Linked DNA regions of Homo sapiens: regions 2 and 3 are each linked to region 1. The links come from fine-mapping of genetic effects on gene expression. A gene starts in region 1. Each other region holds a variant in brackets. All regions are shown on one strand. Distances are between the middles of the regions. Region 1 holds the start of A2M-AS1 (A2M antisense RNA 1). Region 2 has its middle 11 kb from the start of PHC1. Region 3 overlaps A2M (alpha-2-macroglobulin).

Region 1 (5,231 bases):
TGACCTGAATTGGGAGTGATGTGTCCTATGTTACACCAAAATCTGCCACTGATGAGAGTGATCAGTCAGTTAACCTGGGGTTTCAGATTCAATAATAGATGAGCTGAAAATAATGAAGGGAGGATTCATGCAGAAGCACGTTTTCTCAGAAGAAGGAATGTGTATGACTCAAAGTCCAAATAGGAGTATTATATTGGATCATCTTTCTTCTGGAACTTTGAGCCAGGATTAAAGGATAGCTGTAAAGTCAAGGAGATATTCTGATGCAGAAATCAGTTCTCACAACATCTGATTGATGTCTGATGTCTCACAACATCTCTTTAGTCTATTTTTAAAATATATAATTTTCTTTGCAGTAAGTATTGCGACATATATTTCCATTCTATAGAAGGGGAAGCAAAACTTCAGGAGTTTTTGAAGTAGGAAAGGTTAAAGCAGGAGGATTGAGCCAAGAGAGTCTGAGGACAATCGTAGGAGTCCTACTCTTCATTTGGCACAAAAATGACAATGCTTAGTTAGGCAGAAGGTGAGTATGGATTGTATAAACTAAGAACTGGAAAAGACTTTGCAGTTCAAGGAATCCTTAGCTCTGTCTCCAGGCTAGACAAAATAAGAAATAAAAGCTATCACTTCTGTGTGGTGCTTATAGAATAGAATTAACATATCAGCATTATGGGATCTTTAGGGTGTCGCTTTCCTGGCCAGTCTAGTGGCACCTTTGCCTGAGTTTTGCTCTGGGCCCACTGGGCTGCTTCTGCCCACTCGCACTTGCTACCAACCTGGATCCCGGATCCAAGGGAGATTGAGACGGGTGGAGCAGAGGGGTGTGCTAGGGGTGTGTGAGCAAGCGTGGCCACTGTGCAGTCACACACACAAGCTGCTGCCCAGGTTGGGCAGCTCCAGGTGCCAGCACAGGCTCTCCATGAGGTGGCTGGACCAGGCACACAACAAACAGCTTCCCCCTGGACCAGGCGCATCACAAGCAGCTTCCAACAGTGGCACTGGCGAATGCAGTGACGCCAACCAGGGCCCCAAAGAGGGAGTCACAGCCCGGGCTCAAGGAGCTCCCAGGTCTGGGCTTCTCCGAGGGCCAGAGCTCTTCTCTCCCTGTGGGGAGCAAGGGGCATGTTGCAGCCCTGTTTGTGTTACAGCTCTTTTAACCTTGCTGTGCAGCTCCTCAGCTCCTGCATCAAGCAGACAAGTGGAGAATGAGACAGATGAAGAGGAGCATTACTGAGCAATGGAACAGAAGGATAAGGAAGATGAAGAGGAAGGAGACCTGCAGTTAGTAGCTCATTTCCACAGTAAGGATGTCCTTTCCACAGCAAGGGTGTCCCAACGAGTGTTCAGCTTCTAGCAGAACGGAGACCCTGGAGTGGCTGGCTCCTCTCTGCAAACAGGTCTTCCCATTGAGTGTTCAGCTTTCAGCAGAGAGGAGGTTCTGGAATGGGTAGTTTCTCTCCACAGGTAGGTCATCCATTGTCTTCCCATCCTCTCTTCCAATCTAGCTGAGTCTGGGGGATTTTATGAGCCTCAGAGGGAGGAAATGCATGCTGATTGGTCCATGGGCAGCCATGAGTGGGCCCAGGGAGCAGCACCACAAGTTACCTCTCTGGTCTGCAGGCTTCAAGCCCTCACCAGCTTGAGGGTGGGACTTCACTGGGGACCCATCCCCTTCCACCCAGGAACCTGTCTGCCTCCTGCTCCCAGGCTGTTCATGCCAAGGAGCGCCTGCAAGTCAGTGTCCAGCTGTCTTCAGACCCCTCTCAGCCTCCCTCCCACGCTTGTTGGTGCCCAAGTTCCAAAGGGGGCCGAGACGGCAGGGGGCTGGCGTATCAGCACTGTCCTGAGCGTGTGCACGCTCGGCCAGGCTGTGACAGTACCCAGGCTCGGCCCGACCTTGCTCTGAGTTCAGAGTGGGTGCTAACAGTGGAGAGAAGCCAGGCAGCCGGAGTAGGCACCCTGGAGCCTGCAGTGGGCAGGGGACTTTGCTGGGCCTCTGAGAGCACAGAAAATGTCCACAGCCGCGGCAAGGTGGCTGCAGCTGCACCCTGGGAGCTCCTGCTCCACCAGTTCGGAAGGGGCGGGGCTCCTGCTTGTCCCTGGCTCACCTGCTCCTGAGTGTGCAGGTCCGGTGGCGCCTCCTTGCAGGCTGGGCTGATGGGCGGGGGCGGGGGGGGGGGGGGGGAGGAAGGGAATGTTCCAGGTCCTCCCTGGGCCCGGGACTGTGTCCGGGGCAGGGATGACGTCGCTGCAAGTTCTTCCCGTGGCCCCGGGGCTCAGGGGCAGCCCAGGACTCTCCCTCGCCCGGCTCACGGCCCTGCCTGGGGGGCGCCTCCGGGAGCAGATCACGAGCCCTGGGGCTCAGCCCTCAGGCGCGTCTAGCTCGGCGGTCACCCCAGTGCCGGGAGGACCCTGAAGACGCGCCCCAGGCGGCCCTACTCAGAGCCTCCTCCCAAGGCCCAGGAATGCGGCGCTGTCGGAGGTGTGCGCGGTGGCCACACCGCTGTCCGGGTCCCCAAAGCGGGCCCCGCTCCCACTTCTCGCCTTGGCCCCGAACCCTGGGTCCAGCCCCAGCGCTTTGTGTGCGAACACCGCTCCGCCCCGGACCCAGCTCCGCCTTGGGGCCCCTCTCTGCCTGCCCCTCCGTGCCCGACTACACTGCTTCCCCTCCGGCGGGCGACTCAGCCCGGTCCATCGTGGCGGCTTCCAGGGCGGCAGGCTCCGGGAGTACTCCCGGGGCCGGCTCCAAGGACTGTTCCCCTCCTCCCCACTCCCACTCCGCGGCGGCGGCGGGCGAGAGCGGCGACATAGGGCCAGGGTCCGGAGCGGTGGAGGCTCCTGGCCGGGGAGCACGTCGCCCCACCCGGCAACGCGAGGATGGTGGCGGCGCAGTCGGCTGCTTTGGGGTCTCAAGGCACAGGGGACGCGAGGCACAGATGTCCCACAGCAGCCACTGCGGCTCCCGCAGCTGCTCCGCCGCCGCTGCCCGCCCCTCCCTGCTGCAGCTGGCGTGATGGCAGCGGCAGCTCTGGACGCCCCACTGCTGCCACCATCAGCCTTGTGAAATAGGTACTACCTTAACAAATGAAATTGAAGCAGAGACATGTAATTTGCCCAAAGTTACTAAGTTAGTGACAAAGCTAGAATTCAAGACCAAGAAGTCTAGCTTCCATGCTCTTAACTTCCAACCATGGTGACACCTCAAACAACTTCAGACAAAAAGGCCAGGAGAAAGTATATTTCAGAGCTTAATAAACATTATAATTAGCTGTCAAATTAAGTATCAAGCCAGGGCACAGAACATAAAAGAAATCAGAGTATGGCTATGGGAACAAGACAACAGGATTATAATTTTACCTCTTGGTTCTAGTTTTTTTCTTTGTTCATATGGAAATCGTTACTGAAAAGGTACTTTAAGGATATGCTTGTTGCAAATCATTAGCTGTATCACTGACCAAGAGTGTTTATTCCTGAAATACTAACTGATTGCCTACTATCTGCCAGGCACAATATCCCATGCTATAATACAAAATTAAACAAAATAGGATTCCTCCCTTAGAAAAACTCACCGCAGAGTAAAAGAAAAAGATACACATCTGGGTCATTATAATGATCAGGTGCTCAAGCTATTCATTGCCCCAGTGGACTGGAGATACAATGGCCTTCTCAAGTTTTGGGGTATTACACTCAAATTCATATGTAATACTGGAGAAAAGGCCTAATTACAACTTAAACTGGATTTCCCACCAGCCTGGTGGCATGGGAATCTTGGAATTAAAATTACGTAGAATTTTTAAAAGTGATGTATCTTCTACATCTGATTTTGTGAACTGAAGTTTATTCTTTCCAGGAAAGCATATAGATACACGACAGGAAATGAAATGGATACTTGTTGGGGTCAGTTTTATGTATAGTTTGTATTTTATTTTGAAATATGATACACTGCTATTCTCTTGCATTTTCTTATATGTGACTCACCACTAACCCTATATTCCCCCATTTCAGGCCAGTTGGTCATAAGCATCCATTTGCCTCAGAGAATACTGGGTTGTTATGACAAGAATATAAAGTTGGAAAGAAATAGAATATTTGAGTCTACCCTGTAAGAATAAAAAGAATAAAAGGGGTTTAAATTTATTTAGACCCTATTGTTTAATCAAGAATTCTGGCCAGGAGCAGTGGTTCATGCCTATAATCCCAATGCTTTAGGAGGCCAAGGCAGGAGGATCATTTGAGGCCAAGAGTTTGAGACCAGCCTGGGCAAATTATTGCTCGGGAAAAAAAGGTCTTATTTAGTATTTTAGTCTTTACAATGTTTTTTTCTATTATGCAATATTCTCTCAAATACTTTATGTCCATCCACGTTGTCTGAGACATGCCACTTTAACATTCTAGTTATGCTGTAGCTGTCATTTTACCCTAAGCCGTTAGTAGTACTGATCCACATAAAATTGGGCTGTTTAGGTGTTTAACTGTTTAAATGTATAATATATCTGATATATTTATATATTGTATAAAAAATCACCTAACACAATAGATATTTACTATGTCTGCTATAAATATATATCATATAACATATAACAATATATTATAAATGATAATATACTATAATATAAAATATAATAAATATATTATAAATGTACAATATATCCGATATAAATATATAAATATGTCAACTATATTATACATATAAATGTATATGTATAATATATACATATATGTATAATACAATGTATTTATTATGTATATATATAAATGTATATGTATAATATATAAATGTATAATATATCTGATATAAACATATCAGATATATTATCCATCTATTGTGTCAGGTGATTCTTTATACAATATATAAATATATCAGATATATTATCCATCTATTGTGTCAGGTGATTTTTTATACAATATATAAATATATCAGATACATTATCCATCTATTGTGTCAGGTGATTTTTTATACAATATATAAATATATCAGATATATTATCCATCTATTGTGTCAGGTGATTTTTTATACAATATACAAATATATCAGATATATTATCCATCTATTGTGTCAGGTGATTTTTTATACAATATATAAATATATCAGATACATTATCCATCTATTGTGTCAGGTGATTTTTTATACAATATATAAATATATCAGATATATTATCCATCTATTGTGTCAGGTGATTTTTTATACAATATATAAATATATCAGATATATTATCCATCTATTGTGT
Region 2 (5,231 bases), 160 kb after region 1:
TCTAAGCAGGGGGCCTGGTTAACATGTGACACCCTCCTTTGGTACTGTTTGGCCCCGGTGCTCCTTGAAGTCTAGGGAGGCTGGGAGGCTTTAGCCCTTCAATATCGAACTGCCATGGAGGCTGCTTTACCTGAAATTTTGGTTCAGAGCCGTCCTTGTATTTTCTATTAGGTTGAAGTAAAACCGCAAGCTTGTATTGCTATCTCGTGGCTAAGGTTCCAAGGTATTGGATCTTCGTTGATGTATGTGTATACATGTCTAGATGTGTTTATTTGTTTGTACACCTACTGTTATATGTTGTGTCTACCAAATTGGCTTATAAGTAAAAGTGCGCTCATAAATCAAGTAAATAAGTCTAAGCAATTTTCAAGTTCACGTGACTTAAAGTGTAACTTAACAAGCTAGCTTTAAAATTATTGGCAGAATAAAAATAGAAATGCCTTCAGAATTGTCCGCATACCTTCCACCGTTAACAGCGCCACTGCATTCCAGCCTGGATGACGGAGAGAGACTGTCTCAAGAAAAAAAGAAAAGACCCAAAGAGGCAATTGCTTGAACCTGGGAGGCAGAGGTTGCGGTGAGGCAGAGGTTGCGGTGAGTGAGATCGTGCCATTGCACTGCAGCCTGGGCAACAAGAGTGAAACTCCGTCTCAAAAAAAAAAAAAAGAAAGAAAGAAAGAAAGAAAAAAATACAAATTTATAAAAAACCAATTCACTATAACAACAACTTACACAGCATTTACATTATATTAGGTATAAGTGATCTAGAGATGATTTGAAGTATACAGGAGGGCCAGGTGCAGTGACTCATGCCTATAATCCCAGCACTTTGGGAGGCCAAGGCAGGTGGATTGCTTAAGGCCAGGAGTTCAAGACCAGCCTAGCCAACTGGTGAAACCCCGCCTCTACTAAAAATACAAAAATTAGCCAGGTGTGATAATGCACGCCTGCAATCCCAGCTACAGGCTGAGGCACAAGAATCACGGGAACCCAGGAAACAGAAGTTGCAGTGAGCCAAGATCACTCCACTGCAACCCAGCCTGGGTGACAGCAAGACCCTCTCTCAAAAAAAAATAAGATAAAAAAAATGTATACAGGAAGATGTGCATAACTTGTATGCAAATACTATGTCATTTTATATAAGAACATCCTCAGATTTTTGTATATGCAGGGGGTGGCAACTAGAACCAATACCCTGTGGATACCAAGGAACTACTGTATACCTTTTTACACAAAGAATTATAAATTATGGGGATGTGACAAAACAAAGGGGCTTGGTGTAATGGCAGTAAATTGTGGGACAGTGACTAGGAAATATAAAGGGGGAACCAGTGGAAGTTAAAGGTTATTTTAGTAAGACTATTTGCATAGATCTATTTCAGTGTCAGTTCCCTTTCTATGGTGATAAGAATGTTCTCTTCCTTGTACACAGAGGGCATGTTTCTCATGGAAAATTGTATGACCTGCTTTCAGGTAGAAAGGGAGAATCAGAGAGCTTTTCCTGCATCAGCTGTTTCTCCAGTGTCTTCAGCTCAAATGAATATGCCAAAACAACATATTTTGGGGTGGCATAATCTGAAGCCCTTTATTTATTTTTCAAAAAGCAGCAAGCAGCTGAACGTTCTCTGCTGCCTGAAGTTTAGCCGGTTGCCAACTGTATTAGTGCGCTGGCAACAGGGAAATTCATGTTGTCACAGGGTTGGACTAATCAATGGGTAAGTACTCAGGTATCATTTTGAGTGGCAGCATTTTAGTTCTGTAAAAGTGATATTAAAATATAATTTTCAAAAAGCTAGAATCATAACTCATGCAAATATAAAACGAACACGTCAAAGATTTTATACAACTTATTAATTAATGAAAGAATCTATAAGATATCAAAATCAGTTCAAAGTGCGTTTGAGAAGCATGGGTGTTTCTAGGCAATTTAACAAAGGAATGTTAGTGAGATTGCTGTATTGGATACAAAAGTGGTTAATGTCCTATAGGACCATGAAACATAACCTTCAGGATTATCCTTTCCACCACCAGACAGCAGCCAGTTGCAGCTATGAGTTAATCTCTGCCTCTTCTGACTTGTGAAGTGACTGAATTGATGGGAATCAATCAAAGACACAAGCCCAGTATTGAACTGAAAGAACACCTGGTAACCTCTTCCTTTTCCAACTTTCAGAGGATATCTGTGGCAACTGTAAATCTGACTAAGGAAACTGTTAGAGTTGCCAGAGTCCGAGAAAATGGATCACCCCATCAGTGCACTCTGCCTCAGTTCTTTTTCTTGACGACACTGGAGATAGCCAGTCATCACACCTTCAGCAAACCTGCTCCTCCCTTAGACTTCCCTGATTTGGAAAGTGGCAATCCCAATTGCCCAAGCAAAAAACGTTGAAGTCATTCTTGACTCTTCTCTTTAGATCACCCCCTACATCTGAGTCATCCATTTATTCAATATTCAACAAAAATACATTGAGGGCCTCCCCTAAGACAGTCACTTTTTTTTCTGTCATGGGTGGCCATCAGTAGACAAAACAGACAAAATGTTTACCCTCATGGAGTTCACATTGTAGTGGGGGAGAAAACAAACAAATCAGTAAAATCTAAAATCCATGGGAATTCGCATGATGAGAACTGCTATGGGAACATTTTTTTAATGGAAAAATGTCAGGAGAATTGGAAGATGGGGCTTAGAATTTTAACAGAGTGGTCAGGGAAGACTTCACAGAGAAAGTGGCATTTATGAAGAGATGTAAAGGGAACAAGAGAGGGGGCATGTGTGTATCTGCTCCAGGTGGAGGATTGTGTGCCCGGTGTGTTAGAACAGCAAGCAGAGTGTGCCTGGACCAGAGTGAGTGAGATGGTTTAGCTGTGTCCCCACCCAAATCTCAACTTGCATTGTATCTTCCAGAATTCCCACGTGTGGGCTGGGCGTGGTGGCTCAAACCTGTAATCCCAACACTTTGGGAGGCCAAAGTGGGTGGATCAACTGAGGTCAGGAGTTTGAGACCAGCCCAGCCAACATGGGGAAACCCCATCTCTACTAAAAATACCAAAAAAAAAAAAAAAAAAAAAAAATTAGCAGGGCGTGGTGACAGGTGCCTGTAATTCCAGCTACTCGGGAGGCTGAGGAAGGGGAATTGCTTGAACCCAGGAGGTGGAGGTTGCAGTGAACCAAGAT[T/G]GCTCCAGCCTGGGCAACAAGAGCAAAACTCCGTTTCAAAAAAAAAAAAACAGAATTCCCACTTGTTGTGGGAGGGACACAAGGGGAAGTAATTGAATCACGGGGGCCCGTCTTTCCCATGATATTCTCGTGATAGTGAATAAGTCTCACAAGATCTGATGGGTTTATAAAGGGTTTCCGCTTTTGCTTCTTCCTCATTTTCTCTTCCACTGCCATATAAGGAGTGCCTTTTGCCTCTGGTCATGATTCTGTGGCCTCCCCAGCCATGTGAAACTGTAAGTCCAATTAAACTTCCTTTTCTTCCCAGTCTCAGGTATGTGTTTATCAGCAGCATGAAAACAGACTAATACAGTAAATTGATACCAATAGAATGGGGCATTGCTGAAAAAGATACCTGAAAATTTGGAAGTGACTTAGGAACTGGGTAACAAGCAGAGATTGGAACAGTTTGAAGGGCTCAGGAGAAGACAAGAAAATGTGGGAAAGTTTGGAACTTCCTAGAGACTTGAACGGCTTTGCCCAAAATGCTGATAGCGATATAGGCAATAAAATCCAGGCTGAGGCCGGATGCAGTGGCTCACGCCTGTAATCCCAGCACTTCGGGAGGCCCAGGTGGACAGATCACTGAGGTCGGGAGTTCAAGACCAGCCTGACCAACATGAAGAAACCCCGTCTCTACTAAAAATACAAAATTAGCTGGGCGTGGTGGCACATGCCTGTAATCCCAGCTACTTGGGAGGCTGAGGCAGGAGAATCACTTGAATCCAGGAGGCGGAGGTTGCGGTGAGCCAAGATCGTGCCATTTCACTCCAGCCTGGGCAACAAGAGTGAAACTCCATCTCAAAAAACAAAAAACAAAAAAAAAATCCATGCTGAAGTCGTCTCAGATGGAGATGAGGAACTTTTTGGGAACTGGAGCAAAGGTGATTCTTGTTATGTTTTAGCAAAGAGATGGGCAGCATTTTGCCCCTGCCCTAGAGATCTGTGGAATTTTGAACTTCAGAGAGATGATTTAGGGTATCTGACAGAAGAAATTTCTAAACAGCAAAGCATCCAAGAGGTGACTTGGGTGCACTTAAAGGCATTCAATTTTATAAGGGAAGCAGAGCATAAAAGTTTGGAAAATTTGCAGCCTGACTATGTGATAGAAAAGAAAAACCCAAGCCAGCTGCAGAAACTTGCATAAGTAGCAAGAAGCCTAATGTTAATCCCCAAGACCATGGGGAAAATGTCTCCAGGCCATGTCAGAGACCTTCACGGAAGTCCCTCCCATCACAGGTCCAGAGGCCCAGGAGGAAAAAGTGGTTTCGTGGGCCAGGTGCAGGGTCCCCATGCTGTGTGCAGTCTAGGGACTTGGTGCACTGTGTCCCAGCCACTCCAGCCATGGCTGAAAGGGGCCAACGTACAGCTCAGGCTGTGGCTTCAGAGGGTGGAACCCCCAAGCCTTGGCAGCTTCCATGTGGTGTTGAGCCTGCAGGTGCACAGAAGTCAAGAATTGAGGTTTGGGGGCCGGGCACAGTGGCTCACGCCTGTAATCCCAGTGCTTTGGGAGGCCGAGGCAGGCAGATCATGAGGTCAGGAGTTCGAGACCAGCCTGGCCAATATGGTGAAACCCTGTCTCTACTACAAATACAAAAATTAGCTGGGCGTGGTGGCACATGCCTGTAGTCCCAGCTACTCAGGAGGCTGAGACAGAAGAATCGCTTGAACCTGGGAGGCGGAGGTTGCAGTGAGCTGAGATCGCGCCACTGCACTCCAGCCTGGGTGATACAGCGACTCTCCATCTCGAAAAAAAAAAAAAAAGAATTGAGGTTTAGGAACCTCCGCCTAGATTTCAGAAGATGTATGGAAATGCCTGGATGCCCAGGCAAAAGTTTGCTGCAGGGGTGGGGCCCTCATGAAGAACCTCTGCTAGGGCAGTGCAGAAGGGAAATGTGGGGTTGGAGCCTCCACACAGTCCTTACTGGGACACCACCTAATGGAGCTATGAGAAGTGGGCCACCGTCCTCCAGACCCCAGAATGGTAGTTCCACTGACAGCTTGCACCAGGCACATG
Region 3 (5,231 bases), 46 kb before region 1:
GACTGTAAGTGCTTCCTTGGAGTCTGTCAGGGGAAACAGGAGCCTCTTCACTGACCTGGAGGCGGAGAATGACGTACTCCACTGTGTCGCCTTCGCTGTGAGTGTGGCTGTTTGACTTAATATACTTGGTTCTTTTAGTCAGGGTCATAGGGATCTAGTATTCTGTCAGATGAGGCTTTGGGAGGTTGGTAAGAACTGCAGGAAGGAATCCAAATGTAGCAAACTAAGTATAGAAATTAAGGAGCAATGCATGACTCTCCAGCCATGGGAGACAAATATTTACAGGCAAACTAAAAGTCAGCTTAATAATCACATAGAAACCCTATTAGCCAGAAAGGAAAAAAAAAAAAAGAAAATGTGACTTCTTAAAATTAAGATGGAAAAAATATTAATAAAGCAAACTAGACCAAGGCTCAACATGAGCCACCCGTGGTGGACTGACAGGAACACATCACTCCACACTACTTCTAAGAGTAAAAATTGTAGAAATTACCCTGAGCAAAGGTGTAATATCTCTTCAGAGTTGTCCACATGTGAGATGCTTACAGCCTAGTGTCAGTAAAATACGGGGTTTTTTTCCATAGCCTGTAAAACATGCTTCGACCATGCCCTTTTAGCATGTAATATCAGCCTGGTAAAGCTCAGCGTATAATTGAATCAAGACTGTTTCTGTGAGCTGTATGAAGGTGTGAATCTCACTTACAACCTCTCTTACTGATTTATTTTCCTCCACCTTGTGTCCTGTCTCCCCATTTGTAAAATGGCAGAAGTGATTCCTGTCCATGCCAACTTTCCCTGCTGAGAACAAGGGAGTGAAGTTAAGTAAGAAGGGCAAGATCTCCAGGGAAGAGTGCAACAGCAAATAGGGGAGGAGACCTGCGGGTGCTGAATGGGGTTTCAGGATCGGTCCTGTATTTCAGGTCCCAAAGTCTTCATCCAATGAGGAGGTAATGTTCCTCACTGTCCAAGTGAAAGGACCAACCCAAGAATTTAAGAAGCGGACCACAGTGATGGTTAAGAACGAGGACAGTCTGGTCTTTGTCCAGACAGACAAATCAATCTACAAACCAGGGCAGACAGGTATGAAGAAGCCTACAGACAGGACAACTTCAAAAAGGAAAGATCTTCTTCCCCTGGATGTTCCCCAGGCAAAGTTCCTATAATCTTGGTTCCTTAATAGCTTGTCTTACCAGCCTACAGGCCTACTTTGGGTTTGGGGGCTCATGAAAAATATTTCTGTTTCAGTGAAATTTCGTGTTGTCTCCATGGATGAAAACTTTCACCCCCTGAATGAGTTGGTGAGTTTTCTATTATCTACATAAAATGATTGTCTGTATAAACAGGCTGGGAACCTGTTTTTTGTGCTGAGGGAAGACCAGGGAGAGGAAGAATCTGGTATCATTAACAGTAACTTCTGGCATTACAACAGCACAAGATCCTAATCTAAAACATCATTCCAGGTAAAGAAAGTAGGTAATTCTTTCTGTCTTGGTGCTGGTACTCAGTCAGTTGTCACACAATTAAATTTACTTTTCGGATGGTTCTTAATTAGGACAATTAGAAAGATACATTCAATAGCAGACACAGAAAAATCCTCAAAGAACCTAAGCTCAAAAAACATTTTAAAGATTTAGATTTTTTCTATACACATCTACCAAAATCTTCACTATAAAGGAAAGTCAGGGTAATTAATTTGTTCCTCAAGACTAACTCTTGGTATCTGTGATAAGAAACAGTTCTTTCTATTGTAATGCAGACATCAACCCAAAGTCTTCATTTTTCTCTCCCAAATTAACTTCTTCACATTTTCTTATCTCAAAAAGAGGCAACTCTTCTCTTCTAGCTCCAAAGACAAAAGATTATGGCCTAGTTCTTGTTTCTCTTTCTCTCATACCCACATCCACTTCACTGGAAAATCATGTTGGCTTAAAATATATTCAGACTATTTCTTATCATCTGAACTACTGCTGCAAGCTAGTCCTAGTCAATGTCATCTCTAAATAAGATCATTACAATAACCTTCAAAGTGGTCTCCCAGCTTCTACTTTCACTCCTCTGTCTAAAATGAGGCACCACACCCATCACTCTGTCAGCCTAACTTGGCTTTGTTTTTCTATTTGCACTTACCACCATTCTATACGTATTGATTTTTAAAAATCTGCCTATTTCTATTATAACATAAGCTCCATTAAAACATGGTTTATTGTTCTTTTGTGCGTGGTTATATTCTCAATACCTAGAATGATACACAGCGCATGAGAAGGTACTTAATAAAGATTAGTTTTTAAAAATGAATAAACATTCATAGTAGCTTCTTATCAATGTTTATTCATTTTTAAAAGTAATATTTATTAAACTAAATTTATTAATGAAATATGTCCATTCCTCCTCATTCTTAGAACTACGTAAGAATTCTATGACCCATCTTAATGATTACATCTGAACATATTTACTTATAGTTACATAAGTGTTTATTTCTCAACCTGTAAAATTGCATAGCAAAGGATTGATCTTCACTAGGATGCTATAAGCACTTAAGACATGTTAATCCATTTTTAGTAAATGGCACTTTACATGTATATTTGTTGCTGAAGGCCTAGTAAGTTCTTAACATTATTTATTAATTGCTTAAAATAGATTAATGAAAAGTTCTATAAAATTTAATCTGGAATATTTCTGTATTTCACTATAGAGGGAATTATTCTATATGAAACTAATTTAGATTTTTTAAACTTTTTATTGTTTTTAATTTTTGTGGAAACATAGCAGGTATATATATTTATGGGTTACATGAGATATTTTGATACAGGCATGCAGTGCA[T/C]GATAATGATTATGGATGATAATCATTATCATTATCCATATCATTATCCAATCATGGATAATGATTATTATCATGCATTGCATGCCTGTATCAATAAATGGAGTACCCATCCCCTCAAACATTTATTCTTTGTGTTACGAACAAATCCAATTATACTTTTAGTTATTTTTAAATGTACAATTAAATTATTTTTTACTATACTCACCCTGTTATGCTAGCAAATACTAGCTGCTTTGCTTATAAATGAGATTTAAGAATATTTGAAAATAATTATAAACTTCTTTTTTCTTTTGTCTTTCAGATTCCACTAGTATACATTCAGGTAAGCAACATGAAACATTCCATATTAAAAGGAAAGCAATACATATAGGGAAAATGTTCTTATTTCAGAGGTTTTTACAATATCTCAGAAACTTGTCATTAAAGGAGAAGCCTTCAAACTCCCATAGAGCTAGATGGCTATAACTCATCTCCTCTACTCACCCTTTACTACTACCCCATTTGACCTTTTTGTAGATAACTTAGGGTTTCCATAGATATCTTTTATTAGCTCCAATGCTCCAGGTGCTTTTGTAAGTTATAATTAATTTACTCATATAGGATCCCAAAGGAAATCGCATCGCACAATGGCAGAGTTTCCAGTTAGAGGGTGGCCTCAAGCAATTTTCTTTTCCCCTCTCATCAGAGCCCTTCCAGGGCTCCTACAAGGTGGTGGTACAGAAGAAATCAGGTGGAAGGACAGAGCACCCTTTCACCGTGGAGGAATTTGGTATGGATCATGAAAAGTCATCAAGCATTATTTTTCTTCATATTTAAACTCTTAGGTCCTGGAATTTAAGTTCATTTGGAGTCTTTCCATTTCCCATGGGTGACATTGGGCTTGGAGTAGAATTAATTACACCTAAGTCCAATGAGGACATCAGTGATCTGTGAATAGGACTTCACATAGCTTCGTTATTTTCTGTAGCAATATTTAATACCAACCCCCAAAATTAAAACATTCTTGTTTTAATGGAGTTTTCCATAATTAATTAAGCACACAGTGATCTCTCATAGTCCCTCAACTGAAATCTTCATTTGAGAGGAGGATAGATAAGAATAGATTGGAGAGCAGAGCTACCTTTTCAGAGCCCTAAAATATTATTAGGGAACTGTTACAGGGAACCTGAAAATAGGAATTCCCCCAAAGTTGAAAACCAATCACCAACCTTCTTTATCACCAATCAACAGTTCTTCCCAAGTTTGAAGTACAAGTAACAGTGCCAAAGATAATCACCATCTTGGAAGAAGAGATGAATGTATCAGTGTGTGGCCTGTGAGTTCATTTTTTAAAAATCTTTTGTGGGGGATTATTTAAAAGAGACTCACCATTTGGGATATTTTAACTACTCTCTCCGGGAGCAGTGGCAACACAAAAATTTTAAGTGCTTTGACAGCATCCTCATCTGTAGAATGTTATTCTCCTGTTGCTTTTCTATTTTTATTTTCTTTCACGTTCTTATCAGTATTATTCTATCATGAGGTAAGAAACTGTTTCTAGAGAGGTTATGCTAATAGGATTGATTCTGAAAGTGACAAAACTGCACACACACACACACACAAAATGGGAAGGGTGGATAGTGTTGAAGGGTATTGGTTCTGCCTTAACCAAAAATAACCAAACGTATATTAGGGAGATAATTAACACATGGCTATAGGGGAAATTCAATCATCAACAGATCATTTACCTGACCTTGCATGCTTACTGGAAAAATCACTTAGATTCAGAATTTGTAGAGATAGGCATACAACTGAAATCTCATCTAACTCACTAGTCCACCTAAGGCGGGTCTACATACCTGTCTGCACTGACATTTTTACGAAGAGACTGAACGTGATTTCTCAAGACAGTCTGTTCCAACCTTGAAAAGTCTTGTTTCCTGGATCTTATGTTCCCATCCATGGTGGCACACAGTAGCAGTAGCAGGAAGAGCAGGTATAGTCCTGTCCAAAGATCACACATGTAATACACCTACTATTCAGCTAGGCCCCTGCTCCAGTTCTGTCTCACAGTGATGGCCAAGTTCCTGGTTCCTCATAACTGGTGTGATCTTGCAAATAGACATACAGAGGACATTCTCAAATAGGAAAGGAGACAAATGCACTTGGAAACCCAGCAATTGTCTATGACATATTTACGACACAATCCCACTTTTGTAAAAAAGTAAACAGGCCCGGCGTGGTGGCTCACGCCTGTAATCCCAGCACTTTGGGAGGCTGAGGTGGGCAGATCACGAGGTCAGGAGATCAAGACCATCCTGGCTAACATGGTGAAACCCCGTCTCTACTAAAAAATACAAAAAATTAGCCAGGCATGGTGGCCAGCGCCTGTAGTCCCAGCTACTTGGGAAGCTGAGGCAGGAGAATGGCA

Evidence for each region. PIP is the estimated chance that this variant, and not a neighbour inherited with it, causes the effect. A credible set is the group of variants that fine-mapping cannot tell apart.
Region 2: its variant is the best candidate, but not a certain one, in a credible set for the expression of A2M-AS1 in tibial nerve (GTEx, PIP 0.54).
Region 3: its variant is the best candidate, but not a certain one, in a credible set for the expression of A2M-AS1 in testis (GTEx, PIP 0.57).

The regions. Positions count from the first base shown.
Region 1 is chr12:9,062,109-9,067,339 of GRCh38, reverse strand. A2M-AS1 (A2M antisense RNA 1) reads right to left here and starts at 2,163. Exons shown (of 2, transcript NR_137425.1): 1 at 2,112-2,163; 2 at 1-1,514. It overlaps LINC00612 (long intergenic non-protein coding RNA 612), which reads left to right and starts at 2,270. Exons shown (of 3, transcript NR_034140.1): 1 at 2,270-3,072. It also overlaps a transcript of KLRG1 not described here. RefSeq lists silencers at 2,775-2,824, 2,885-2,934.
Region 2 is chr12:8,901,020-8,906,250 of GRCh38, reverse strand. No RefSeq gene overlaps it. Among named protein-coding and RNA genes, the nearest start is that of PHC1, 11 kb to the left of the region's middle. RefSeq lists an enhancer at 619-1,275. The variant T/G (reference allele first, on the strand shown) is at 3,176.
Region 3 is chr12:9,108,226-9,113,456 of GRCh38, reverse strand. A2M (alpha-2-macroglobulin) reads left to right here. Exons shown (of 36, transcript NM_000014.6): 2 at 1-97; 3 at 921-1,080; 4 at 1,246-1,298; 5 at 3,123-3,143; 6 at 3,422-3,590; 7 at 4,052-4,136. It also overlaps a transcript of KLRG1 not described here. Among named protein-coding and RNA genes, the nearest start is that of A2M, 5.1 kb to the left of the region's middle. The variant T/C (reference allele first, on the strand shown) is at 2,822.